Linked DNA regions of Homo sapiens: regions 2, 3, 4 and 5 are each linked to region 1. The links come from fine-mapping of genetic effects on gene expression. A gene starts in region 1. Each other region holds a variant in brackets. All regions are shown on one strand. Distances are from middle to middle.

Region 1 (5,000 bases):
TACAGAGTGAGCTGACTGTGCCACTGCACTTCAGCTTGGGCAACAGAGAGCGAGACCCTGTCTCAAAACAAAAACAAAAAAAAGTTATATGAATGTGGTCTCTCTCTCAAAATATACTTTTTTTTGGCCAGTCATGGTGGCTCATGCCTATAATCCCAAAATTTTGGGAGGCCAAGGAAGGAGGATCACTTGACTCCAGGAGTTCAAGACCAGCTTGGGCAACATAGTGAGACTGTGTCTCTAGAAAAAAAAAAACAAATTAACTGGGCATGGTGGTGCCTGTCTGTAGTCTCAGCTACCGGGGTGGTGGGGAGAGGAGTGCTGAGATGAGAGGATGGCTTGAGTCCAGGAGGTCGAGACTGCAATGAATTATGATGGCGCCACCGTACTCCAGCCTGGGCAACAGGGCAAGACCTTGTCTCAAAAAAAAAAAAAGCCTGGGCGATGGAGCAAGTGTCGATCATGGCTCACTGAAGCTTCAACCTCTTGGGCTCAAGCCATCCTCCTGCCTTAGCCTCCCCAGCAGCTGGGACTACAAGTGTGTGTCACCAAGCCTGGCTAATTTTTCTGTAGACATGGGAGTCTATGTTGTCAGGGCTGGTCTTGAACTCCTGGCCTCTTGCTGCCTTAGCCCCCAAAGTGCTGGGATTACAGGCATGAGCCACTGTCCGGCTTCCCCTCCCCTCCCCCTGCCCCTGACAGGGTCTTGCTCTGCCCAGGCTGGAGTGCAGTGGCGTGATCTCAGCTCACTATAGCATCAAACTTCTGGGCTCAAGCCATCCTCCTGCCTCAACCTCCTGAGTAGCGGGGACCACAGGCGTGTGCCACCATGCATGGTCTTTTTTTTTTTTTTTTTGTAGAGATGAGGTCTTACTATGTTGCCCAGGCTGGTCTCAAACTCCTGGGTTCAAGTGATCCTTCAAACTTGGTCTCACAAAGTCCTGGGATTATTACAGGCATGAGCCACCACTCCCAGCCTCAAAATATCTTATTGTACTGTGTTCAACTATTTTCCAAGCGGTTGACCATAGCTAACTGAAACTCAGGAAAAGGAAACTTTGGATAAGGGGAGACTGCTGTAATAACATTGTCTTTGAAGGCTTTTCAGTCCCCAACTCTCCCTCCATTCACCCTAAAAAAAATTGAACCCAGCTGGGAACTGGACCCCAACCTAGGGTCCCGGACCACCTCAATCTTCTCTGTGCCACTGTAGTGAGCTCAGCAAATTGAGGAGTTAATGGCCAGAGTGTCAGGGGCAGGCTGGAGAAGGAAGGTAATTTTTCTGCTCTCTGCCCTGCAAGTTTCTTCCTCAAATTGCTGAACAGAGAGCACTGACCCAGCAGGGCCAAAGTGAGGAGGGGTGACAAATGTCTAAACTGCTGATGAGATGCTGGAGACCAATGTGCTGGGGTGGGTGGGTCGTGGGTAGGGAGGAAAGGAAACCTAGAGATGGGAATAGGAGCAGTCTTCACCTTGCCCCTGGGCCATGGGACCATTACTCTCTCTGCCACCTACCTCAATGCCAGCAGCCTGTTTGTACTAGACCAGAGCAGTGCAGGTAGGGCTGACTCGCAGGTGAACTCAGTGAGCCCAGAATCCCAGGTTTGGGAGGGACAGCCTTTTGCTGTAATACAGAAATGCCACCCGTTGGTGCAGGTGATGACCCCTCACTCCCCATGGGCACGTTAGGTAGGAACATACGTCCGGCATCCAGGCACAAAAGGGTCTTGCGGCAACACCCCGCGATCTCAAGAGCACCCAGACAGAAGGAGTGGAGGCAGGTACTGATAGTTTTGTTGCCCTTGAGGTTCGGAGCACAGCTGGACACCAAGGCCCCCTCCGCTGCCCAGCTCAGCAGCCCTTCCTCCCCAGCTTCTTTACCACCCCCAGTCTCCTTACCGGGTCCAGTGTCTTCAGCACTGCAATTTTACCAGCCCAGCTCTGCGAGTTCTCGAGAAGGGGCGGGGCCAGCGCCGTTATGTCCGGCTGCAGTAAGTGACCTCTCACTCCCCTCAGCTTATCCCTCAGCCATTGGCTGGAAGCGGGTGGCTCAACCATTGGCTGGAACCCGCCTCCTGGAGCCGAGACAGGCAGGTTGCTAAGAAGCCTGGGAGAAGAGGCTGGCTCTTTTTGCTGTCACTCTCGCCAACAGTCCGGAGTCCATTATACCCCTGGTGTGCAAAGAATGGGACCCTTGTGCACCAGGGCTGTATGTCCGGAGCTCGGGCAGTGTGGAAGGTGACAAGGAATCCAAAAGTTGGGCTGACAGGTGGGAGATTTTGAGACACCCCTGCCGCCCCTCCCTGGAGGAGGCCTCGGGATCCAGTCCGGTTTTCCCCGGCTGTGATCTCCACTTTAAACCCAGGGTAGACCTACCTCTATCTACTCTGTTGCAACTACAACTACCCTGTTTATCTTTTAGGGAAAGCAAAGTCAATCGCTTAGTTCTCGTATTCCAGGAATGATAACAGAAATGCCTAAAATAGTGGTTCCAAGAATTTGAGATTCCTTGGGCTAGTCGAATTTCTCCCCAAACAAAAATGAAACAACAACACTGAATAGCCGTCTTTTATTTTGCGTAGAAAAAAAAAATAATAATCGCCCCTTGGTGGCACACGCCTGTAGTCCCAGTACTCGGGAGGCTGAGGCGGGAGGATCGCTTAAGCCCAGGAGTTCGAGGTTGCACTGAGCCAAGATCGCGGCACTGCACTCCAGCCTGGACAACAGAGCAAGACCCCATCTCTTAAAAAACAAACTGCCCCTTAACAAGAGCAATGGCAGCTTAACACCCCGAAGTATGAAGGTTGTAGTCTCTTATCTCAAAGTAAGGGGCATAAATATAATACATTTCCTATTACCCTTTTGTCATTTGATGCAGGACAAAATTTATCAAACCTAGTCCCCCAATCTGGACAAATGTATCCATACACTGCCCTCTAGAGGCCGGACGGTGGAGCTGCAATTTTAATCAGTTTAAGTGAAGGTGTTCACCTTTAATTTTGAAAGATCATTTCCTTTCCTTTCGGCTCTCCAACTAGAGCTTTTACCAGGAATCAGGGAACGGGGGTGGGGGGTATTACCAAGAGATATAAGGTAAGGGAACCGACAGTGAAAAGTTGGCAAGTTGGCTTTGGCTCTTAAGTGTTTGGAAATGGAAAGGATTTCAATCTGTATACAATCAAATCACTGAAGAAGGCTAATGCCCAACCTATCCTACCAGTTGTTAAAAAAAAAATATATATATATATATATATGTATATATATATGGAGAGAGAGAGAGTGAGAGAGAGAGAGAGAGGGAGAAAGAGGGAGAGAGAGAGAAAGCGAGCTTCAACCTAAAAAAAAAAAAGTCTCAGCCAAAGGAAGATACAGAGAAGTCAGTTAGGGACTATCTAAAAGCCTCCTTCCTAATAGTGTCATCTACTTTTGTGTGACACACATACTTTACATAATTGACCTTAATCTTCAGCTTTTACTTTACAGATGAAGAAACGAGGCGGAAGGCACTAACTAACTTGATCAAGGCCACAGCTGGTTAAGTTGACAGAGACAGGCCTAGAATGTCAGATTTGTCTGGCACCAGTCCTCTTTCCTATCCACCTTCAGATTCTTTGGAATTTAAAGCCTACTGCAACCACACATAATCCTATTTCATTTCCCTTCCCTCGACCTTTAGACTGTGGTGGACTGAAGGGTTTGAAGTACACTAGGAGTCAAGAGCAGATCCAGAGGAAATTTTCCCGTTGAGGTGGAAGCTACAAGAAAACTAACTCAGTGATGTTTTTCAACCTTTGGGTCATGGACCCCTTTGAGAAACATATAGAAATGGATCCTAGAAATATGCACATACGGCCGGGCGCAGTGGCTCACGCCCGTAATCCCAGCACTTTGGGAGGCCAAGGTGGGTGGATCACGAGGTCAGGAGTTCAAGACCAGCCTGACCAACATGGTGAAACCCCGTCTCTACTAAAAATACAAAAATTAGCTGGGTGTGTTGGTGCGTGCCTGTAATCCTAGCTACTCAGGAGGCTGAGGCAGGAGAATCACTTGAACTCAGGAGGCGGAGATTGCTGTGAGCCAAGATCGTGCCACTGTACTCCAGGCTAGCGACAGAGACTCCGTCTCAATTAAAAAAAAAAAAAGAAATATGCACATACATTTTTGTATACTACTTCAAATAGCACCCCTCTCTCTAATCTGATCAGTGGGCCCAAAGATCCACAGACCATACCCTACACATATACATTCTGTTAAGAGGGCCTAAAAAGATATAATAGGGTTTGATTTGATGAACAATCTAGTGGCCTTAGAAGAGGGGTGATTAAATAGCAATAGAAGGGCTATTTTCTAAACTAGATGTTTAAGAAAAGATTAAAGGGAATAAAGATGTATCAAGATGCAGGGAAAGGTGTGTTTCTGATTCAGTAGAACATTACTGGGTATCCTTTCTTCCAAATTCCTAGTACCTGACAAATAGCAAAAATAATAATAATAATAACAATAAAATAAAAAAAAGCAACACTCCAATGCCCTTTTCTTTTTTTCCTTTTTTTACTTACATTAAATACATCGGTAAATCAGCAGTCGCATTCTGTTACCACGATTGTTATGTTGGGAGAGGAAGAAAGGCAAATGCTTTCTCAGAAGCAAAACAAAAACAAAAAACCACAACACCCCCCCTTAAAAAAACTGACCAGAAGAAAAAAATGAGCTGGGAAATAAACAAAAGAAAACTAAGATCCCCAAGCCCAACAGAGCTCAAAGGAAGGCAGAAGAGGTGGTAGGAAGTAGAGGGAAGGCAGCCGATAGGCCCAGAAGCTAAGGCCAAATCCTGTTCCTATGGGGGTGGGGGGAGGGAGAAGCCTGGGGAAGTGGTTTCCCAGGCCCAAGATAATGAAACATCTTCACTCCTGCTCCAAGGGGGAAAGCTGCACAGAGAAAGAACTTCATTTCTAGAAGACTTTGGAAAGCCATCCTAGTTCTTCCACTTGTAAAAAGGA
Region 2 (5,129 bases), 230 kb before region 1:
TACCCCATTAGGCTGGGGTCAGGCAGCCTCAACCCCTCTAACCCTTCTAAAAGATTAAAAAAGAACATCCCCGGAGGCCTCCAACTTCAGGATCAGAATTTGGGGGTCTCTGGACAGGCTGCTTTGGGGCTGGAAGGCCCCCTGCCGGGATGCTCTTTTAGTCTCAAGCCGCGAAGTGGCGGAGCCGACGTAGACAGGGGTAGGGAACCCGGTGCACAGCCAGGGAGTAGAATCTTACTGGCCAGATCTTCCGGAACCCTCATCCCGACAAGCCGGGACTCGGTCCATCCCCTCCCCTACCCGCAGCCCACCACCCACCCAAGCCAGCCGGCAGGACTGTGCACGCCGCTGAGCAGCCCGCAGGGGGAGCCACAGGCTCCGCTGCCGCCGGATGCTGCCCCGTGGAACGCGGGAGTGCGGACATTCCCGGAAGTTTCCCCCGGCTGGCCTCCTCCGGCCAATCAGCACCGCCCGGGCGCGCCCTGCGTCCCGCCGCCTGCCCTGCCCAGCCAATCGGGATCAGAGACTCGTGCGCCGCGAAGGGGGCGAATTTCAGGTATTAAAGGAACCTTGGAGATAGTTGGCTCTGTAGGGGGAAAAATCCACCACTAGAAGGCGCACAGGGCCCCCAGTTTTCCTTAACTTGGCTAGGGAGAATGCACTTAGGTTCTAAGACGTTTCTTTCCAAAGAGTGACACAATGGGAAAAGGAGCAAGGGCTTCGGAATCTGGCGGACAAAAGTTTGAATCCTGGCTCAATGCTTCACTTCATTTCTCGACTATTTAAACATATGTAATTCCAATTCCGCAAGGCGCGGTGGCTCACGCCTGTAATCCCAGCACGTAGGGAGGCATAGGCTGGAGGATAGCATGAGTCCAGGAGTTCCAGACCTGCCTGGGCAATATAACGAGACCCCATTCTCCACAAAAAGGGAAAAAAAGACAAAAAATATGTAATTCCATCTTACGAGAAAACGGAAGTTATATTTAAAAAAGTGCCTTGCACACAGTAGGCACACACGGTTTCCTCCCTTTTTATTGCTCTAACCGTTATCTTTGTTCCTGATTTGGGGTTCTCATCTTTAATGCACTACCCAGCTTGGTCAAGGTCTCTGGGAAAAGTGGCATTTACACCAGAGACAAAAGGCAGGCTCACCCTTCTTGGAAGAAATGGAACCTGCGACAAAGAGAGAAACATTGTTAGTCCCTTTTTTTTTTTTTTTTGAAACAGGGTCTCGCTGTGTAACCCAGGCTGGAGTGTAGTGGTGCAATCTTGGCTTACTGCAACCTCCCACCACAGCCTCCGTAGTAGCTGGTACTACAGGTTCGCACTACCACCCTCGGCTAATTTCTGTATTTTTTTTGTAGAGACAGTTTCGCCATGTTTCCCAGGCTGGTCTCGGACTCATGACCTCAAGGGATCCGCCCACCTCGTCCTCCCAAAGTGCTAGGATTACAGGCGTGAGCCGCTGCACCTGGCCATACTACTCTTCCCCGCCCCGCCCCACCGCTCCACCCCGGCAAAGGAGTCTTGCTCTGTCGCCCAGGTTGGAGTGCAGTGGCGCGATCTCGGCTCACTGCAATGCAACCTCTGCCTCCCGGGTTCAAGCGATTCTCCTGTCTCAGCCTCCCGAGTAGCTGGGATTACAGGCGCCCGCCACCACGCCCGGCTACTTTTTTTGTATTTTTAGTAGAGACGGGGTTTCACCACGTTGGCCAGCCTGGGCTCAAACTCCTGACCTCGTGATCCACCAGCCTCGGTCTCCCAAAGTGTTGGGATTAAAGGCATGAACCACCGCGCCCGGCCATACTACTCTTATCTTACTTATCTCAGAGTCCCGCTAGAAGACAGCAGAAAGGAGGCCTGAAACTTTAGTTCCTTTTGGGACCTGTCAAATTGTCCACAAAAGGTAGCTAGCTCTGTATTGTTGTGTATAAACAAATTACATAAAGATATGTGTGTATGTGTGTATTAATGTGCATTAGCATTTGCTTAGCCAATGTCCACAATAAATACCATACTATTTAATACCAGATTAGTCTAGGAAGTCATGTGATTGTAATGCCTTGGTTTGCTTAATTAATCCCTTATCTGCTCACGGAGCTCTTTAGGCTCCACATTGACTTCCCTTGGATCCCACGTTCTCTACCGCCCACATCCCCAACACCACGGTGTT[G/C]TAAGCTAAGGAAATCAAACCCCAACTCAGGAAGAGGGAAATTTTTTCTCCCTTCCTTCCTCTTAGGTGTTTCAGGGAACTCCACAAGTGTTCGGGGAGCCATCGTGGATACGGCAGGAGAGCGCCTGGGAGAGAGGCAGACAACCCGTTGAGCACCCCAGATCTAAGCTTTGCGGTCAGACTCCCTCACTCCCCACCCCGCGGCCGCCTTGTTAACTGCAATATCCATTCCCATGACAGGAGTCAAGGGGTTACGAAGCTCTGGGATGCTGACCAGGGCTCTGGAAAAGGGAGAGGGGCCGGACCCGCAGCAGGTCACGCTGCAGGCCTGCCTCTCCGCAATGATCTCGCAACAATCTGCGTCAGCTCTAAGACACAAGTCACCTGCACCCCTCCAAAGCGAAGCGTGGCCGGCCAGGCCCACACGTTTTTGCCGGGAAGAACATAGAGTTCTCCCTCCTAAATGGCTACATAGTCCTGGCTGGGACCATATAGACTCTAGACTAGACTTCCTGTCTAGAGTGGAGGCCTGGCCAGCCTTCGTCCCTCCTCGTAGGCAGCTCCTGGCTGCTGGTGTAGGGGCTGAGTTAAACAAAGAGGCGGGGTTTGGTGACGAGCTTCCGCCGGGTTGCGTAGCAGCGGTGGGCGGGGCAAAGGATCCGTCTGAGGCGGCGACGAGTGGTAGGAGTCTTCTTTCCCCTCCTTCCCCTTTCCCTTCCCTTCCCGGGAGAGGCTGGGACCCGGCACCAGGGCAGTACTGTGGCCGCTGCGGCCTCAGCTCCGACTGGGTCAGGTTGCGGAGACTCCAGGCCGCTTCCAGGGCGGTGCGTACTGCGCCTGCGCGATCTTCCACCTAAAAGAGGGTGTGGGAGGGGAGGAGGTGATGTCCCAGGGGTATTGGGGCGGGGGGTTGAAATAACTGGGGTTCAGGAGGAGGGATGGTGGTAGAGATAAAAATGTGAGAAGGGAGCAGCACTGGCGAGGAGTCGGGAGGTGAGAAGGGGGCTCTGGAGAACGGGTTGTTGGGGAAGGTCCATTGGAATAGGGGAGCTTTGAGAAGTGCGGGAGGGGGCCGGGGCTAGCTGGAGGACCGGCACCTGCAGAACTGGGGGAACAGCGTGGTGTTTAAATGGGCAATGATTGACGGGCCAGAAGGGGAGGAAGGGAGCATTCCGGGGGCCAGCCTGGGCAGGGGCGGTGGAACCTAAACCCCCGCCCTCGAAGCGCCATAGCTTGGCTCCTCTCCCATGCCTTGTCGTTGGCAGCCTTGTCCTCTCATTCCTTCCCCGCTCCTCACCCCCTCCCAGCCCTCCATGAAGGAATCTCACATTCTTCACATCCCTGCGCTTGGTTTGCAGCCTGGCTCTCTGGCAGGGTTCACACACCACACACTGGAAGGCCTTCCCTAACTCAGGACTTTGGGAAATTGGGTAGTGGGGAGGAGGGGGCTAGAGGAAGAGCAGAAAGCCAGGAGGGGTGAAGGCGTTTTGCTTGAGGGATTGACAGACTGCTTCCCCGTTCAGAAACTTCATTTCATTTAATAGCAAGTGGGGCTGTTATTGAGGCCACTGTTCTTGGGGACTGGCCCGTGATAGTGTTATCCCTTTCTATACAGGGGTTTTAGAGTCTGACAATAGGGCAAGAGACTGATAGTGTTGTTGGCTGATAGTTTTGCCCCAAATAAGAATGTAGTGGACTAGTGGTAGGGAATGTGAGTGATGCAATGTTAAGCCGACCGACCTGTGGCTAGCCCTGCCTTCTAGTAAAAAGAAGGAACAAGCTTTTGTCAAGCATTTCCTCTCCGACTCTCAGTACTCTAAATTTATTTTGCATTCTTGTTTTTTTTTTTTTTTGAAACGGAGTCTCACTCTGTCACCCACGCTGGAGTGCAGTGGCACAATCTCGGCTCAGTGCCACCTCTTTCTGGGTTCAAGCGATTCTCCTGCCTCAGCCTCTTGAATAGCTGGGATTACAGGTACCTGCCACCATGCCTGGCTAATTTTTTGTATTTTTAGTTGAGATGGGGTTTCACCATGTTGGCCAGGCTGGTCTCAAACCTCTGACTGTAGCCGGGCGCGGTGGCTCACGCCTGTAATCCTAGCACTTTGGGAGGACGAGGCGGGCGGATTGCCTGAGCTCAAAAGTTCGAGACCAGCCTGGGCAACACAGTGAAACCCCGTCTCTACTAAAAATATAAAAAATTAGCCGGGGCATGGCTGCATGCACCTGTAGTCCCAGCTACTTGGGAAGCTGAGGCAGGAGAATTGCTTGAACCCAGGAGGCAGAGGTTGCAGTGAGCTGAGATTCCACCACTGAACTCCAACCTGGGCAACAGAGTGAGACTCTGTCTCCCCACACCCCCCGCCAAAAAAAACAAAACAAAACCCTGACCTCAGGTGATTGGTCCATCTCGGCTTCCCAAAGTGCTAGGATTACAGGCATGAGCCACTGCACCCAGCCTTATTTTGTATTCTGTTGCTACAAATAATCTTACTTGAGGATAACAGTATTCAGTATCCTTTCATATTTATTTATTTATTTATTTATTTATTTATTTATTTATTTTTGAGACAGGGTCTCACTCTGTCACCCAGGCCGGAGTGCGGTGCTGCGATCTCTGCTCACTGCAACCTCTGCCTCCTCGGCTCAGTTGACCTTCCCCCTTCAGCCTCCTCAGTAGCCGGGACTACAGGCACTCACGCCATCATGCCCGGCTAATTTTTGTATTTTTTGTAGAGACAAGGTTTCACTATGTTGCCCAGGCTGGTCTCAAACTCTTGGACTCAGGTGATCCACTCACTTCGGCCTCCCAAAGTGCTGGGATTACGGGTGTGAGCCACTGCGTCCAGCCTCCTTTCGTATTTATTATTTCATTTGATTTGCAGACAGTATGTATAAGGGGTGCGCGCGTGTATATACACATATATACACACACACACATATATACACCTTA
Region 3 (5,129 bases), 280 kb before region 1:
AGGCCTAAAGAAATTACTGTAACCATGCTAAGAACAAGATGGTGCTTCTGGCTGGGAAAAGGTACTAGCTGCTCACATTAGATGGTCCTTCAGCTTTCCAGGAGCTCGCTCTTTGGGGCCATTGCTATTAAAGCTAGGTTGGAGTCATGGAGCAGAGCATACAGGCATCATCAACCAGTAACCTCTCCAGCTCTGTGGATGAGTGAACAAAAGCTGGTAATGAGATTAGGATGCTTTTTTTTTTTTTTTTTTTTAGATGGAGTCTTGCTCTGTCGCCAGGTTGGAGTGCAATGGCGCAATCTTGGCTCACTGCAACCTGCACCTCCAGGTTCAAGTGATTCTGCTGCCTCAGCCTCCCAAGTAGCTAGGACTACAGATGTGTGCCACCATGCCCAGCTAATTTTTGTATTTTTAGCAGAGACGGGGTTTCACCATGTTGGCCAGGATGGTCTTGATCTCTTGACCTCATGATCCACCCGCCTTGGCCTCCCAAAGTGCTAGGATTATAGGCGTGAGCCACTGTGCCTGGCCAAGATTAGGATGTCTTTTACAAGAGTTTAGGTATAACTGACTGGCTATAGGCTGGCATGAGCCCATAACTAGGCTAGTAAGTGGCAAATAAGAGAACAGCAAAGTTTCCATAATCTGCCCCTTCTTTCTTCCCTTGGCTCTCCCTTCTTACTTCCCCACAGTGACCATGAGGGTGGCAATGTAAGTGCCCATACCAGCCATTTGGTGGGCAGTGCCCTTTCCGACCCTTACCTGTCCTTTGCAGCAGCCATGAACGGGCTGGCAGGGCCTCTCCATGGACTGGCAAATCAGGTAAGACTATTCTTTTTATTTTCCTGCTACATGTTTTCCTTACCCCATGCTTTGTTTCTGATCTTGGCATTCTCTTCTGGCATATGTATTAACATTCCCTTTTTCCCCAAACCTTACCCATAGGAAGTGCTTGTCTGGCTAACACAGCTGCAGAAGGAAGTTGGCAAAGATGTGTCAGATGAGAAGTTACGAGACTACATCTGGAACACACTCAACTCAGGACGGGTAAGCAGAGATGCTTAACGACTAGGAAAGAAACCAAGACACAAGTTCTGCAATTTGGAAGAATTAAGAAAAGAATGAAAGAGGTCCCTAAATTAGAGATTTTTTTTTCTTCATTTATCTACCTTGAAGAATTTAGAAAAGAATTTCTAGGTGGGCACAATGGCATGCACCTGTAGTCCCACCTACTTGGGAGGCTGAGGCAAGAGGATTGCTTGAGGCCAGGAGTTTAAGGCTGCAGTGTGCTAAGATCACTCCTGTGAATAGCCACTACACTCCAGCCAGGACAACACAGCAAGACCCCATTCTCTAAAAAACAGTTTTAAATAGGTTGAGTGTGGTGGCTCACGCTTATAATCTTAGCACTTTGGGAGTCCAGGGTGGATGGATCTCGTGAGCCCAGGAGTTTGAGACCAGCCTGAGCAACACAGACCCTATCTTTTTTTTTTTTTTTTTTTTAAAGACAGTCTTGCTCTTGTTGCCCAGGCTAGAATGCAGTGGCGCAACCTCAGTTCACTGCAACCTCCGCCTCTCGGGTTCAAGTGATTCTCCTGCCTCATCCTCTCGAGTAGCTGGGATTACAGGCATGCGCCACCATGCCCGGCTAATTTTGTATTTTTAGTAGAGACGGGGTTTCTCCGAGTTGGTCAGTTGGTCAGGCTAGTCTAGGACTCCCAACCTCAGGTGATCTGCCCACCTCAGCCTCCCAAAGTGCTGGGATTACAGGCATGAGCCACCGCACACGGCCAGACCCCATCTTTACCAAAAAAAAAAAAAAAAAAGCCAGATGTGTTGGTGTGCACCTGTGGTCCCAGCTACTCTGGAGGCTGAAGTGGGAGAATTGCCTGAGCCTGGGAGGTCGAGGCTGCCGTGAGATGTGATCATGCCACTGCACTCCAGCCTGGGTGACAGAGTGAGATCCTGTCTCGAAAAATAAAAGAATTTCTACTGAGAATACTATCTTTTTTCCTCACTCTTTACAGGTTGTTCCAGGCTATGGCCATGCAGTACTAAGGAAGACTGATCCGCGATATACCTGTCAGCGAGAGTTTGCTCTGAAACACCTGCCTAATGACCCCATGTTTAAGTTGGTTGCTCAGCTGTACAAGATTGTGCCCAATGTCCTCTTAGAGCAGGGTAAAGCCAAGAATCCTTGGCCCAATGTAGATGCTCACAGTGGGGTGCTGCTCCAGGTAAGTCCTCCTTTCCCTCTTTTCCCTCTAATTTGTACCAAACCCTATTGTTATCTGCCATGCACAAAGTCAATTAACTCCTAGTCAGAGCAGGGACTTCCCTCACAGAGCATTTTGATAAAGTTGACTATGAGAGGGTTGGGGGTTGGGGTTGCTCTGTTTTCAGAATCCCAATTGCTATACTTTTCTCAGTGTCATTTCTATTTAAGGTTGACTGGGCTAAGTCCTTGGAGAAAAATGGAAAATTTAGCTTTTAAGGTTTCTATCACCTAGGACTTGTACATGCCACTGCCTCTGCCTTAAATGAAATATTTTTCTCTTCTACCTTACAGTATTATGGCATGACGGAGATGAATTACTACACGGTCCTGTTTGGGGTGTCACGAGCATTGGGTGTACTGGCACAGCTCATCTGGAGCCGAGCCTTAGGCTTCCCTCTAGAAAGGCCCAAGTCCATGAGCACAGAGGGTCTGATGAAGTTTGTGGACTCTAAGTCAGGGTAAAACTGGAGACTGGGTGAAAGTGACTACCAGAAAGTGAGGAAGCCTAAATAAAAAGTATACTTTTGTTTCAGGGGGCCTTTAAAGACTTAAGATTAAATTATATCTGAGGCACTGATAATATGTTTGAGGTTAAAATATAAATTAAGACTTTAAAAGATGAAAAATGGTCCCTTCTTCCCTAATCAGCTCCCTTCCCCTGCCTGGTATGAGTTGCCCATCATACGCATGGTCCTGGAGGATGACCAGGACTAATGCATGTGGTATGAGTAGGTTTGGCCCCCTCACTATCTCTAGAGTGAGAATCTGGCTCCTGTTTCCATGGGTCAAAGCCGGTTGCAGAGAATCTGTAGTCA[C/T]TTTGGAGCTTTAGCTTCTCTGCCAAGCCCTCAATAAGCCAGCAAACCAGGACTCTGCCCCTTCTGTTTCCATAGGAATCATGTTGGATAGTCAGCTGTACCAAGCCCCTTGGCCCTCTCCCATGCACACAAACACCTCCTAGCAAGACCTGTTGGTTAGCTGGACATGCTTTGGCAATTTTTTTATACTACCAAGTGACCATAAAGGCATGGCATTTGTTGTGACTGGCACCCAATGTTTGATTTTTTTTTTAAAACTATCCAATTAAAATTAAGGTCTGGGAGTGTTCTGTTTCCCATTACTTTAATACTCACCTCCTCCCAGACTTTCTACACCTGTTGCACCTCAGGCAGAGGATGTTCTGGACCTCCCCCTCTTGGTCCCTACTAGAGACCTCTCAACAGATCTGTGGGCCCAGTCATTGGGTTTTATCAGTGCTTAATGTGAACTAAGTTTTTTACTTCCACAGAATACAAGCCACTACCTTCTGACCTCCCCACCCCCCACCAACCCCCATCTTTTAATATGCTGTGGGGCATAGAACTCCGGAATGACCAGCATGATATTTTCAGAGTCTTGTCCCCGGGGTATTAGCACCTCTTTTTGAACAGGGAATTGATTCAAGATTGGACATGGTCTCCTCTGATTATCAGGTACTGGGGCTGAGGGCATTAAAAATAGTAAGCCTCCCTCCTCGTCCCCTGCCTCAAGAAATTGCCTCCTTATTTATCAACATCTTTTTCCTCCCTTTCCCTGAGAGCTCACAGTACAATGTTTCAGAAGCCCCATTTGCACAGGTTTTCAGCAACTCAGAATGCTCTACTTCTTTTTCTTTGAGAAAGGATTAAGATACACTCCTGCTGTGCCCCCATCTTTCCTCCAAACTCCTGCCTGTGTTTGTGTGGATACCCAGTCCCAGAACCACACTGTTGAGTTGGACACACTGTAAACCCCTGGGTAACTGTCAAGTCATGATGGAGACTTCAGGTTGTTCTGTATAAAATGCAAAATAAATGTTTTTATTAACAATGCTTGAGCCTATTATTAAATAAGGCCTGGAAGAACCTTTATTATGAGGTAAGGAATCTGGCTAGCAAGATCCTGAACTTAGTGGGTTATAAGTAATCTGTATCCATTTATCTTTAGGCAGGTTTGGCTTTCTTTTACCTTAACCAGAGGAAAGCCTCCCTGAGAAATTTCCAGAGGAGATTTCTGTCCTTCCTCAAGGTTAGGAAGTCCTTGATGTTTAGCCCCTAACCTTGCTAATTTTGTTGTAAGGTAACATACTCAAGGGCTATAGCTGAGATTCTCAATTGCTTATGTGACTAATCCAAGAACTGGTCTAGCCCACTGAGAGAAAGGAACAAACTACCAAGGACGAATGGGCTAGTACTGCTACCTCAGGACCAGAGCCACTAGAGGGCTCTGGTACTTCTTGGAGTGCCTGCTCTTTATAGCTTCCCTGAAGGAGGTCCCAAAAATAACAAGAGGTGGTCCTGAGGGCATCACATATATGGGAGGTCCAAGACCAGATGATTCTGTCCTGAGATCCCTGCTGCAACTGACCTTCTGAAAAAGTCTATAAATAGACAAGGGGGTGGGTACTAGGTCCTGGCTTGTAGAATGTGCTACTATAGTTAGCAGGGACACTGTGTCCAAGAGGCCTTCTTATACCTTCACTCCCCCAGGAAAAGAAGCCATAACTTCGTTCTACTCTACTATATCTACATTATTGCCCCAAGAAACAATATAATAAAGCCAAATTCACACTGTCACAATTTATTGAAATTTTATAAAAACTCAGGCCAAGTGGAAGAATAAGGTACAACTCAAGAGTACAAAGACAACTCCGTTTCCGTTCAGTACTTTTCTCCTCAGCACTGGTGGTAAGAAAGCCCCTTGCTCTCTAGTAGCCAGGCAGCATGGACTTACAGTCTTAAAATGAGGCTTTATGTATTTCAGGCTGGAGGCAGGTTGCCTTTTCTCCTGAGGAATCTCAGGCAGGGTAAAAGTTACTTACCACTCAGTACCTCTG
Region 4 (5,129 bases), 320 kb after region 1:
CTCACTCTGTGGCCCAGGCTGGAGTGCAGTTGTTTGATCTTGGCTCATTGCAACCTCCACCTCCCAGGTTCAAGTGATTCTCCTGCCTCAGCCTCCTGAGTAGCTGGGATTACAAGCATGCACCACCATGCCCGGCTAATTTTTGTATTTTTAGTAGAGACGGTGTTTCACCATATTGACCAGGCTGGTCTCAAACTCCTGACCTCGGGTGATCCGCCTACCTTGGCCTCCCAAATAGTTTGCATTTTCTGGAATTTTGTGTAAATGGAATCCTATAATGTATGGGATTTCAGCATCTGGCTTATTTCATTCAGCATGTTTATTTGGAGAGTCATCCATGTTGTACATGCATCCGCAGTTCATTTCCATTTCTGAGTAGTATTCCATTGTATGGATATACCACATATATTTTTATCCATTCACTTGTTGATAAACGTTTGGGTTGTTTCCAATTTCTGACTGTTAGAAATAAAGCTACTATGAACTGTTTGTGTACATGGGTTTGTGTGGACGTATGCTTTTATTTCTCTTGGGTGAATACCTGGGTGTGTATTTTGATGTTCAAATTGCCCTAGATTTGGCTGGGGGAGCACCTGCAAGCTGGCTCCTGTCTCCTTTTGACACAACTCCATCACTCTTTGAGCATTTTCTTACTTTCTGCTACAAGAAGATGTTCCAGGCTCATCTTGTATTTCCCCTGCTCCAGCCCCGAACTTAGTTATTTCTCAAAGAAGCACTGGTCTTTTGTGAGGAGGATGGTATTTAAAAACCAAGATCTGAATGCTGGATGTGATTATCACTGGGGAGTAATTGCTCCTGGGCCTGCTCCATGGACACAGAAAGAGGCAAAGTAGTATTATCCTGTGCTTTTTATTTGCTCTTTTCTTTTTCTTTTCCTTTTTTTTTTTTTTTTTTCCTGAGACAGAGTCTCACTCTGTCGCCCAGGCTGAAGTGCAGTGGCACTATCTCGGCTTGCTGCAACCTCCGACTCCCGGATTCAAGCGATTCTCCCTCCTCAGCCTCCCGAGTAGCTGGGATTACAGGCGCATGCCACCACACTTGGCTAATTTTTGTATTTTTAGTAGAGACAGGGTTTTACCATGTTGGCCAGGCTGGTCTCGAACTCCTGACCTCAGGTGATCCACCAGCCTCGGCCTCCCAAAGTGCTGGGATTACAGGTATGAGCTGCCGTGCCCGGCTTACTTACTCTTTTCTGCGTGAGGTTGAATTTTTGTTTCTTATAATTAAGAGCCTCTGTATTTCCTTTTCTAGAAATTTTCATTTTATTTTTTATTTTTGAGATAGCCTTGCTCTGTCACTCAGGCTGGAGTGTAGTGTGCGATCACAGCTCACTGCAGCCTCAACCTCTCAGGCTCAAGCAATCCTCCCACCTTAGCCTCCTGAGTAGTGGTCACCACAGGTATATGCCAACATGCCCAGCTAATTTTTCTTTTTTTTGAGACGGAGTCTTGCTCTGTCACCCAGGCTGGAGTGCAGTGGCATGATCTCTGCTCACTGCAAGCTCTGCCTCCCGGGTTCATGCCATTCTCCTGTCTCAGCCTCCCGAGTAGCTGGAACTACAGGCGCCCGCCACCACGCCCGGCTAATTTTTTTTTGTATTTTTAGTAGAGATGGGTTTTCACCGAGTTAGTGAGGATGGTCTCGATCTCCTGACCTCGTGATCCACCCTCCTCGGCCTCTGAAAGTGCTGGGATTGCAGGCGTGAGCCACCATGCCTGGCCAGACACACATATATATTTTTTTAAATTTTCTTTTTTTAATTACACTTTAAGTTCTAGGGTACATGTGCACAACGTGCAGGTTTGTTACATATGTATACATGTACCATGTTGGTGTGCTGCACCCATTAGCTGGTCATTTACATTAGGTATATCTCCTAATGCTATCCTTCCCCCCACCCCACCCCACGACAGGCCCCAATGTGTGGTGTTCCCCACCCTGCAGATACACAGATTTTCAATTGTGAGGGGTATCAGTCCCCTAGGTCCTGAGTTGTTCAAGGGTCAACTGTACAGCCATGTGCTGCATAACACATTTAGCTCAATGACAGAGCACATATATGATGGAGGTACCATAAGATTATTATG[T/C]AGCTGAAAAATCCCTGTCCTGTAGTGATGTCTTGATGATCCTGACCTTGTGTAGACCTAGGCTAATGTGTGTCTTTGTGTCTTAGCTTTTAACAAAAAAGTTAAAAAAATTTAAAAAATAGAAAAAGCTTATAGAATAAGGATATAAAGAAATAAAATATTTTTGTACAGCTGTAGAATATTTATGTTTTAAGCTAAGTGTTATTACAAGAGTCAAAGTTAAAAAAATTAAAAAGTTTATAAAGTAAAAAAGTTGCAGTAAGCTAAGGCTAGTTTATTATTGAAGAAAAGAAAAAAAAAATGTAAATAAATTTAGTGTAGTCACTCACTGACTCACCCAGAGCAACTTCTTGTCCTGCAAAGTCCATTCATGATATGTGCCCTATATAGGTATGCCGTTTTTAAATCTTTTATACTGTATTTTTTACCACACCTTTTCCACGTTTAGATACATAAATACTTAACATGGTGTTACAATTGCCTATAGTATTGAGTACAGTAACATGCTGTACAGGCTTGCAGCCTAGGAGCAATAGGTTACGCCATATAGCCTAGCTGTATAGTAGGCTACACCATCCAAGCTTGTGTAAGGACACTCTATGATGATGTTCCCGTAATGGTAAAATCACCTAACGATGCATTTCTCGGAACTTATTCCTGTTGTTAAGCAACATATGACTTAACATGTGACTGTATATTCAGAGTTGTGCAACCAGCCACCACAATCAATTTTAGAACATTTTCGTTACCCCAAAAGAAACTTGTGCTTTTACCACTTACTCCCATTTCCCCCATCCCCATCCCAACCCCAGTACCATCAATTTCCTTTCCGTAGGCAATCACTACTCTACTTATGTCTGTATGGATTTACTTATTCTTGACATTTCATGTAATTGGAATCATACTACATGTGGCCTATGTGACTGGCTTTTCACACAGCATAATGCTTCCAAAGTTTACACATGTTGTAGCATGTATCAATACTTCATTCCTTTTACGTCCAAGTAGCATTGCATTGTACAGATATGCCACATTTTGTTTATTTATTCAACAGTTGATAGACATTTGGGTTGTTTCCACTTTTGGGGTACTATAAACAATGCTGCTATGAATTCTTGTCTTCATTTTATCTTTCTTTCTCCTAAATCATTAATCTCTGCCTTTCCATGGATCTTTCAAAATATGAATATGCTCTAATATATTTCAGGTTAATAATAAACTGACCCTCTTGACACCACATGTCACTTTAGCTAAAACTCCATTTTACAAATCTATGTCAAAGTCTTTTTTTTTTGGCAGGATCTTGCTCTGTTGCCTAGGCTGGAGTGCACCATTCTGACTCACTGCAGCCTCAAACTCCTGGGGTTGTGCTGCCCTTCCTGCTTCAGCCTCTTGAGTAGCTAGGACTATAGGTGCATACCACCATGCCTACTAACTTTTAAAAATTTTTGTAGAGACAGGGTATCTCTCAGGGTTGCCCAGGCTGATCTTGAACTCCTGGCCTCAAGCCATCCTCCTGTCTTGGTCTCCCAAAGTGCTGGGATTACAGGCGTGAGCTACTGTGCCAAGCCCAAGAAATTTTTATTAGTGATGGATTGGAGTGGGAGAAAGAGTGAATGGAAGGTGAGGAAACCAAGATAACACGAGCAGATGACTCAAGAATTATGACTTTGGGCGGGCGTGGTGGCTCGTGCCTGTAATCCAAGTACTTTGGGAGGCCGAGAGGAAATGACTGCTTGAGCCCAGGAGTTTGAGACCAGCTTGGGCAACATAGGCTGTTGTTTTTCTCTACAAAAAATAAAAAAATTAGCCAATTAGCCGGGTGTGGTGGCATGCGCCTGTAGCCCCAGCTACTTAGGAGGCAGAGGCAAGGGGATTGCTTGAGCCTGCAAGTTCAGGGTTACAGTGAACCATGACTGGGTCAGTGTACTCCAGCCTGGGAGACAGAGAGAGACCCTGTCTCTAAAAACAAAACAAAACAAAACAAAGAAACCCGAAACTATTATTATCAAGCCTATTAATTATTTCCACATGCCAGGTCCAGTGAATATTCCCTGTTCTCATCTTATCTGACTTTTCAACAGCTTCAGAAATAGTTGGCTACTATTTCTTCTTGAAAAATTCTCTCATCTAGGCTGTCCTAACATAACAGTCTTCTTGTTTCTATAACATTCCCGTGGCTGTTACTTCTTAGAAACTTCTTTTTTTAGATCTTTCTCATCTACTCGACCTTTAAATTTTGTTTCTTTGGGTTTAGTCTTGGGTCTTTCTCTGTCTAAATTCTCTCATTAAATAACCTCATCTTTTTTTTTTTAATATAGACTTTATTTTTTAGAGCAGTTTTAGCTTCATAGAAAAGTTGAGGAAAGTACAGAGATTTTCCACATACCCTTTGTCCTCACACATGACTAGCCTTCCTCATTATCAGTATCCCCCACCAGAGTGGACATTTATTACAATTGATGAACCTACATTGACACATAATTTTCACCAAATCCCATCCATTTTCATGGTTTAAAATGCCATGTATATGCAAATTATTCACACATTTATATCTTTAGTGCAGATCCTTCCTTTGAGTTTCAAATTTGTATACCCAGTTGTGTACTTGATCCTCCTCCTCAGCATATCTTCTGGACATATAAAACTTAACATGTCCAAAATGACACTTACGGTACTCCCCAAGTCTCTTGTCTTACTCTGCCCATCTTCTTCATCATCTCAGTGAATGGCACCATTAGCTTCTTGATTGCTCAACCAAAAACCTAGGATTTATTCTATTTCTTCTCTGTCTCCTCCTTTTCTTTTCTCATTTCTAACTTTGTATAATGGAGAATTTTGAATATACACAAAAGTTGGCAGAACAGTATAAGATACCCCCATGTATACATCATTCATCCCAACAACTATCAACCCACAGCCAATCCTTCCCCATCCACATCCTTTTCTACTTTCTGCTTCCTTCTCCTGTGTGTCATTTTGAAGCAAATCCCAAACATCATGTCATTTCATCTCCATCTG
Region 5 (5,129 bases), 400 kb before region 1:
CAGGCAGGTGCCACCACGCCTGGCTAATTTTTTGTATTTTTAGTAGAGGTGGGGTTTCTCCACGTTGGCCAGGCTGGTCTCAAACTCCTGGCTTCAGATGATCCACCCACCTCAGCCTCCCAAAGTGCTGGGATTACATATGTGAGCCACCGCACCTGGCCTATCCTTTTACATTCAACTTACCTATGTCATTATATTTACATGTACATGTACATATACATGTTGTTTTTTATTTTTCTACCAGTCTTTTAATTGGTATGCCTAGATCATTTACATTTAATGTAATTTTTGATATATTAGGGCTAAGTCTGCCATTTTATGTTTCTTTTTGTTTGTTTCAGCTCTCATTTTCATTACTCTTTGACCTTTTTCCCCTTCCTGTGGATTACTTGAACATTTCTTTAAATTCCTTTTTGATTTATCTGTTATAAATTTTTATTTATTATGAATGTTTTTAGTGGTTGGTCTAGATATTGCATTATACATATGAAACCTATCACAATTACTGGTGTCAACATTTTATCAGTTTGAGTAAAGTATAGAAATCTTACCTCCATTTAGGTCCCTTAACATTCCCTCCCCCTTGTATACTATAATTATCTTAAATATTTCCTATCTATATATTGAGAACCATATCAGATAATATAATTTTTACTTCAGCCATCCAATATAATTTAGAAAACTCAAGATGAGAAGATTGACCTATTGTCATGTATTTATATTTTTATACTTCCTCTTCTTTCTTCATAATTTTTGTTTTGTTTGGTTTTTTGGTTTTTTTTTTTTTTGAGATGGAGTCTCACTCTGTTGCCCAGTGTTGGAGTGCAGTGATGTGATCTTGGTTCACTGCAACCTCTGCCTCCCAGGTTCAAGTGATTCTCCTGCCTCAGCCTCTCGAGTAGCTAAGACTACAGGCGTGCGGTACCATGCCTGGCTAATTTTTGTATTTTCAGTAGAGATGGTGTTTCGCCATGTTGGCCATGCTGGTCTTGAACTCCTGACCTCAAGTGATCTGCCTATCTCAGCCTCCCAAATTTTCTTCACAATGTTTTAAGCTTTGTTTCTTTCTTTTTTTTTTAAGAGTAGGTCTGGTGGAAGCAAATTATCTTAGTTTCCCTTATCTGAGAAGCTCTTGATTTCACCTTCATTCCTGAAGGATATTTTTGCTGGGTATGGGATTTAAAGTTGACGTTTGTCTGTTTGTTTGTTTGTTTGTTTGTTTGAGTACTTGGAAAATGTGCCATTCCCTGCTGGTCTCTATGGCTTCTTATAAGAAATCTACTGTCAATGGAATAATTGTTCCTTTATAGGTACTATGTTGTTTCTATTTGCTTCCAAGACTTTTTTCTTTGTATTTATTTTAGGAAGTTTGCTTATGATGTGTCTTGCAATAGATTTCTTTGAATTTATTCTACTTAGGGTTCACTCCATTTCTTGAATCTGTATGTTCATGTGCTCTAAATTTCCTTCTAAGCACAGCTTTAGCAACATCTTACAAATTTTGACATGTTCTGTTTTTATTTTCATTCAGCTCAAAGTACTTTTTGAATTTTCTTTTTACTCTTTGAAATGAAAATTACTTAAATGTGTGTTATTTAGTTTCCAAATACTAGGCTATCATCCAGATATCAGTAATTAGTTTCTAATTTAATTCCACTGTGCTCAAGGAACATACTTTGTATGACTTGAATCCTTTTAAATTTATTGGTACATTGTTTTGGATTTTTTTTTTTTTTTTTTTTTTTTGAAACAGAGTCTTGCTCTGTCACCCAGGCTGGAGTGCAGTGGCATGATATCAGCTCACTGCAACCTCTGCCTCCCGGTTTTAAGCAATTCTCATGCCTCAGCTTCCCAAGTAGATGGGACTACAGGTGTGCACCACTACACCTGGCTAATTTTTGTATTTTTAGTAGAGATAGGGTTTTGCCATGTTGGGCAGGCTGGTGTCAAACTCCTGACCTCAAGTGATCTACCTGTCTCAGCCTCCCAAAGTACTGGGATTAGACATGAGCCACAGTGCCCAGCCTGCTTCTTGTGTTTTGAAGCTCTGTTATCATATGTATAAATGCTTAGAATTGTTAGGTCATCTTAATAAATTGGCCCCTTTTTCACTGTCAAATGACATTATTTATCCCTATAATATTCTTTCCTCTGAAGTCTACTTTTCTTTTTTTCTTTTTTTTTTTGAGATGGAGTCTCGCTCTGTCAACCAGCCTGGAGTGCAGTGACGTGATCTTGGCTCACTGCAACCTCCACCTCCCGGGTTCAAGCGATTCTCCTGCCTCAGCCTTCTGAGTAGCTGGGACTACAGGTGCGCGCCACCACACCCAGCTAATTTTTATATTTTTAGTAGAGATGGAGTTTCACCATGTTGGTCAGGCTGATCTCGAGCTCCTGACCTCGTGACCTGCCCACCTTGGCCTCCCAAAGTGCTGGAATTACAGGCGTGAGCCACCACTGCCGGCCTACTTTTCTTTCTTAAAAAAAAAAAAATCTGTTTTTATAGTGACAGTGTCTCACTATGTTGCCCAAGATGGTCTCAAACTTAGCTCACACATTCCTCCTGCCTCGGCCTCCCAAAGTGCTGGGATTACAGGCGTGAGCCACCATTTCCAGCCCTGAAGTCTGCTTTTGTGATATTAACATAGCCACTCCAGCTTTCTCTAGGTTAGTGTTAGCATGGTATAGTTTTAAAAATCCTTTTACTTATAATTTATTTGTTTCTTTTAAAGTGGGTTTCTTGTAGAAAGCACATAGCTGGACTTTTTTCTTTTATCCAATCTGACAATCTTTGCCTTTTAATTTTGTTGTTTAGACCATTTATATTTAATATCATTATTGACATTGTCAGGTTTAAATATTACATTTTGCTACTTGTTTTCTATTTGTCTCATCTGTTCCTTGTTCTCCTTTCCTCTCTTTCTTCTTTGGGTTTTTTTTTTTTTTTTTTTTTTTCTGAGACAGAGTCTTGCTCTGTCGCCCAGGCTGGAGTGCAGTGGCATGATCTTGGCTCACTGCAACCTCTGCCTCCTGGGTTCACACCATTCTCCTGCCTCAGCCTCCCGAGTAGCTGGGACTACAGGTGCCCACCACCACACCCAGCTAATTTTTTATATTTTT[A/G]GTAGAGACGGGGTTTCACTGTGTTAGCCAGGATGGTCTTGATCTTCTGACCTTATGATCTGCCCACCTCGGCCTCCCAAAGTGCTGGGATTGTAGGCATGAACCACTGCACCCAGCTCTTCTTTGGGTTTAACTCAGTATTTTTTTATAATTCTATCTTCTGTTTTTGTTTTGTTTTGTTTTGTTTTTCCCTTTCTGTAACAGGGTCTTGCTCTGTCACCCAGTGTGGAGTGCATTTTGCAATTATGACTCACTGCAGTCTCAAACTCCTGGGCTCAAGCAATCTTCCCACCTTGGCCTCCCAAGTAGCTGGGACTACAGGTATGTGCCGCTACATCTGGCTTTTTTTTTTTTTTTTTAGACATGGTCTTGCTCTATCACCCAGGCTGGAGTGCAGTGGTGCAATCATGGCTCACTGCAGTCTCCACCTCCCACATCCAAGTGATCCTCCCACCTTCAAGTAGCTGAGACCACAGGTTTGTGCCATCACACCTGGCTAATTTTTTATTTTTTATAGAGATGGAGGCTCCGTATGTTGCCCAGGCTGGTCTTGAACTTCTGGGCTCACATAATCCTTCTGCCTCAGCTTCTCAAAGTCCTGAGATTACAGATGTGAGCCACTGCACCCAGCCCCTGAATAACATTTTTTATTTTTTGTAGAGATGGCATCTCGCTATGTTGCTCAGGCTAATCTCAAACTCCTGGCTTCAAGTGATCCTCCTGCCTCAGCCTCAAAAGTGCTGAGATTACAGATATAAGCCACTGTGCCACACCTGCTTTGTTATTTTAGTGTTGCTTTAGGGTTTATAGTAATCATCTCTAATTTATTACAGACTACCTTCAGGTGCTATTTACAGTGTAAGAAACCATAGTATACTTCCATTTTCTCCCTCCCAGCCTTTGTGCTATTGTTACATTTTACACTTACATATGTTATAAACTACATTATTTTTGCCTTAAATAGTCAATAGTCAATTATCTCTTTTAAAAATGTATATTTAAGGGGCCGGGCACGGTGGCTCATGCCTATAATCCCAGCACTTTGGGAGGCCGAGGCAGGCGGATCACCTGAGGTCAGGAGTTTGAGACCATCCTGGCCAACATGGTGAAACCTTGTCTCTACTAAAAATATTTTAAAAATTAGCCAGACGTAATGGTGGGCGCCTGTAATCCCAGCTACTCGGGAGGCTGAGGCAGAATTGCTTGAACCCAGGAGACGGAGGTTGCAGTGAGCCGATACTGTGCCACTGCACTCCAGCCTGAGCTACAGAGTGAGACTCCATCTCAAAAGAAAACACACACACACACACACACACACACACACACACATAAACAAAAATGTATATTTACCTATTTACTATTTCCTATGGTCTTCATTTCTTTATGTACATCCAGATTTTCAATGGAAGTCATTTTCCTCTGTCTACAGACTTTTATTAACATTTCTTAAGCCAGGCGCGGTGGCTGATGCCTGTAATCCCAGCACTTTGGGAGGCCGAGGCGGGCGGATCACCTGAGGTCAGGAGTTTGAGACCATCCTGGCCAACATGGTGAAACCTTGTCTCTACTAAAAATATTTTAAAAATTAGCCAGACGTAATGGTGGGCGCCTGTAATCCCAGCTACTCGGGAGGCTGAGGCAGAATTGCTTGAACCCAGGAGACGGAGGTTGCAGTGAGCCGATACTGTGCCACTGCACTCCAGCCTGAGCTACAGAGTGAGACTCCATCTCAAAAGAAAACACACACACACACACACAAATAAACAAAAATGTATATTTACCTATTTACTATTTCCTATGGTCTTCATTTCTTTATGTACATCCAGATTTTCAATGGAAGTCATTTTCCTCTGTCTACAGACTTTTATTAACATTTCTTAGGCCAGGTGCAGTGGCTCATGCCTGTAATCCCAGCACTTTGGGAGGCCAAGGTGAGTGGATCAACTGAGCTCAAGAGTTTCAGACCAGCCTGGGCAACATGGTAAAACCCTGTCTCTACAAAAAGTACA

What was found.
Region 2: its variant is fine-mapped to the expression of SUOX in testis (GTEx, PIP above 0.99).
Region 3: its variant is fine-mapped to the expression of SUOX in whole blood (TOPMed, PIP above 0.99).
Region 4: its variant is fine-mapped to the expression of SUOX in unexposed skin (GTEx, PIP above 0.99).
Region 5: its variant is fine-mapped to the expression of SUOX in sigmoid colon (GTEx, PIP 0.95).

The regions. Positions count from the first base shown.
Region 1 is chr12:55,994,239-55,999,238 of GRCh38, reverse strand. It overlaps SUOX (sulfite oxidase), which reads right to left and starts at 1,963. Exons shown (of 5, transcript NM_001032386.2): 1 at 1,900-1,963; 2 at 1,516-1,624. It overlaps RAB5B (RAB5B, member RAS oncogene family), which reads right to left. Exons shown (of 6, transcript NM_002868.4): 6 at 2,556-5,000. RefSeq lists a silencer at 1,914-2,103 and an enhancer at 1,689-2,189.
Region 2 is chr12:56,219,631-56,224,759 of GRCh38, reverse strand. RNF41 (ring finger protein 41) reads left to right here and starts at 2,838. Exons shown (of 7, transcript NM_005785.4): 1 at 2,838-3,000. NABP2 (nucleic acid binding protein 2) reads right to left here and starts at 418. Exons shown (of 7, transcript NM_024068.4): 1 at 319-418. RefSeq lists a silencer at 330-569 and enhancers at 1,301-1,595, 1,012-1,945, 2,427-2,646, 1,946-2,880, 2,867-2,916. The variant G/C (reference allele first, on the strand shown) is at 2,177.
Region 3 is chr12:56,270,695-56,275,823 of GRCh38, reverse strand. It overlaps COQ10A (coenzyme Q10A), which reads right to left. Exons shown (of 5, transcript NM_144576.4): 5 at 4,858-5,129. It overlaps CS (citrate synthase), which reads left to right. Exons shown (of 11, transcript NM_004077.3): 8 at 693-822; 9 at 946-1,047; 10 at 2,028-2,237; 11 at 2,570-4,125. The coding sequence ends at 2,740. Among named protein-coding and RNA genes, the nearest start is that of COQ10A, 6.3 kb to the right of the region's middle. RefSeq lists a silencer at 4,365-4,659. The variant C/T (reference allele first, on the strand shown) is at 3,094.
Region 4 is chr12:55,674,510-55,679,638 of GRCh38, reverse strand. No RefSeq gene overlaps it. Among named protein-coding and RNA genes, the nearest start is that of TMT1B, 4.7 kb to the left of the region's middle. The variant T/C (reference allele first, on the strand shown) is at 2,109.
Region 5 is chr12:56,390,192-56,395,320 of GRCh38, reverse strand. No RefSeq gene overlaps it. Among named protein-coding and RNA genes, the nearest start is that of APOF, 30 kb to the right of the region's middle. The variant A/G (reference allele first, on the strand shown) is at 3,121.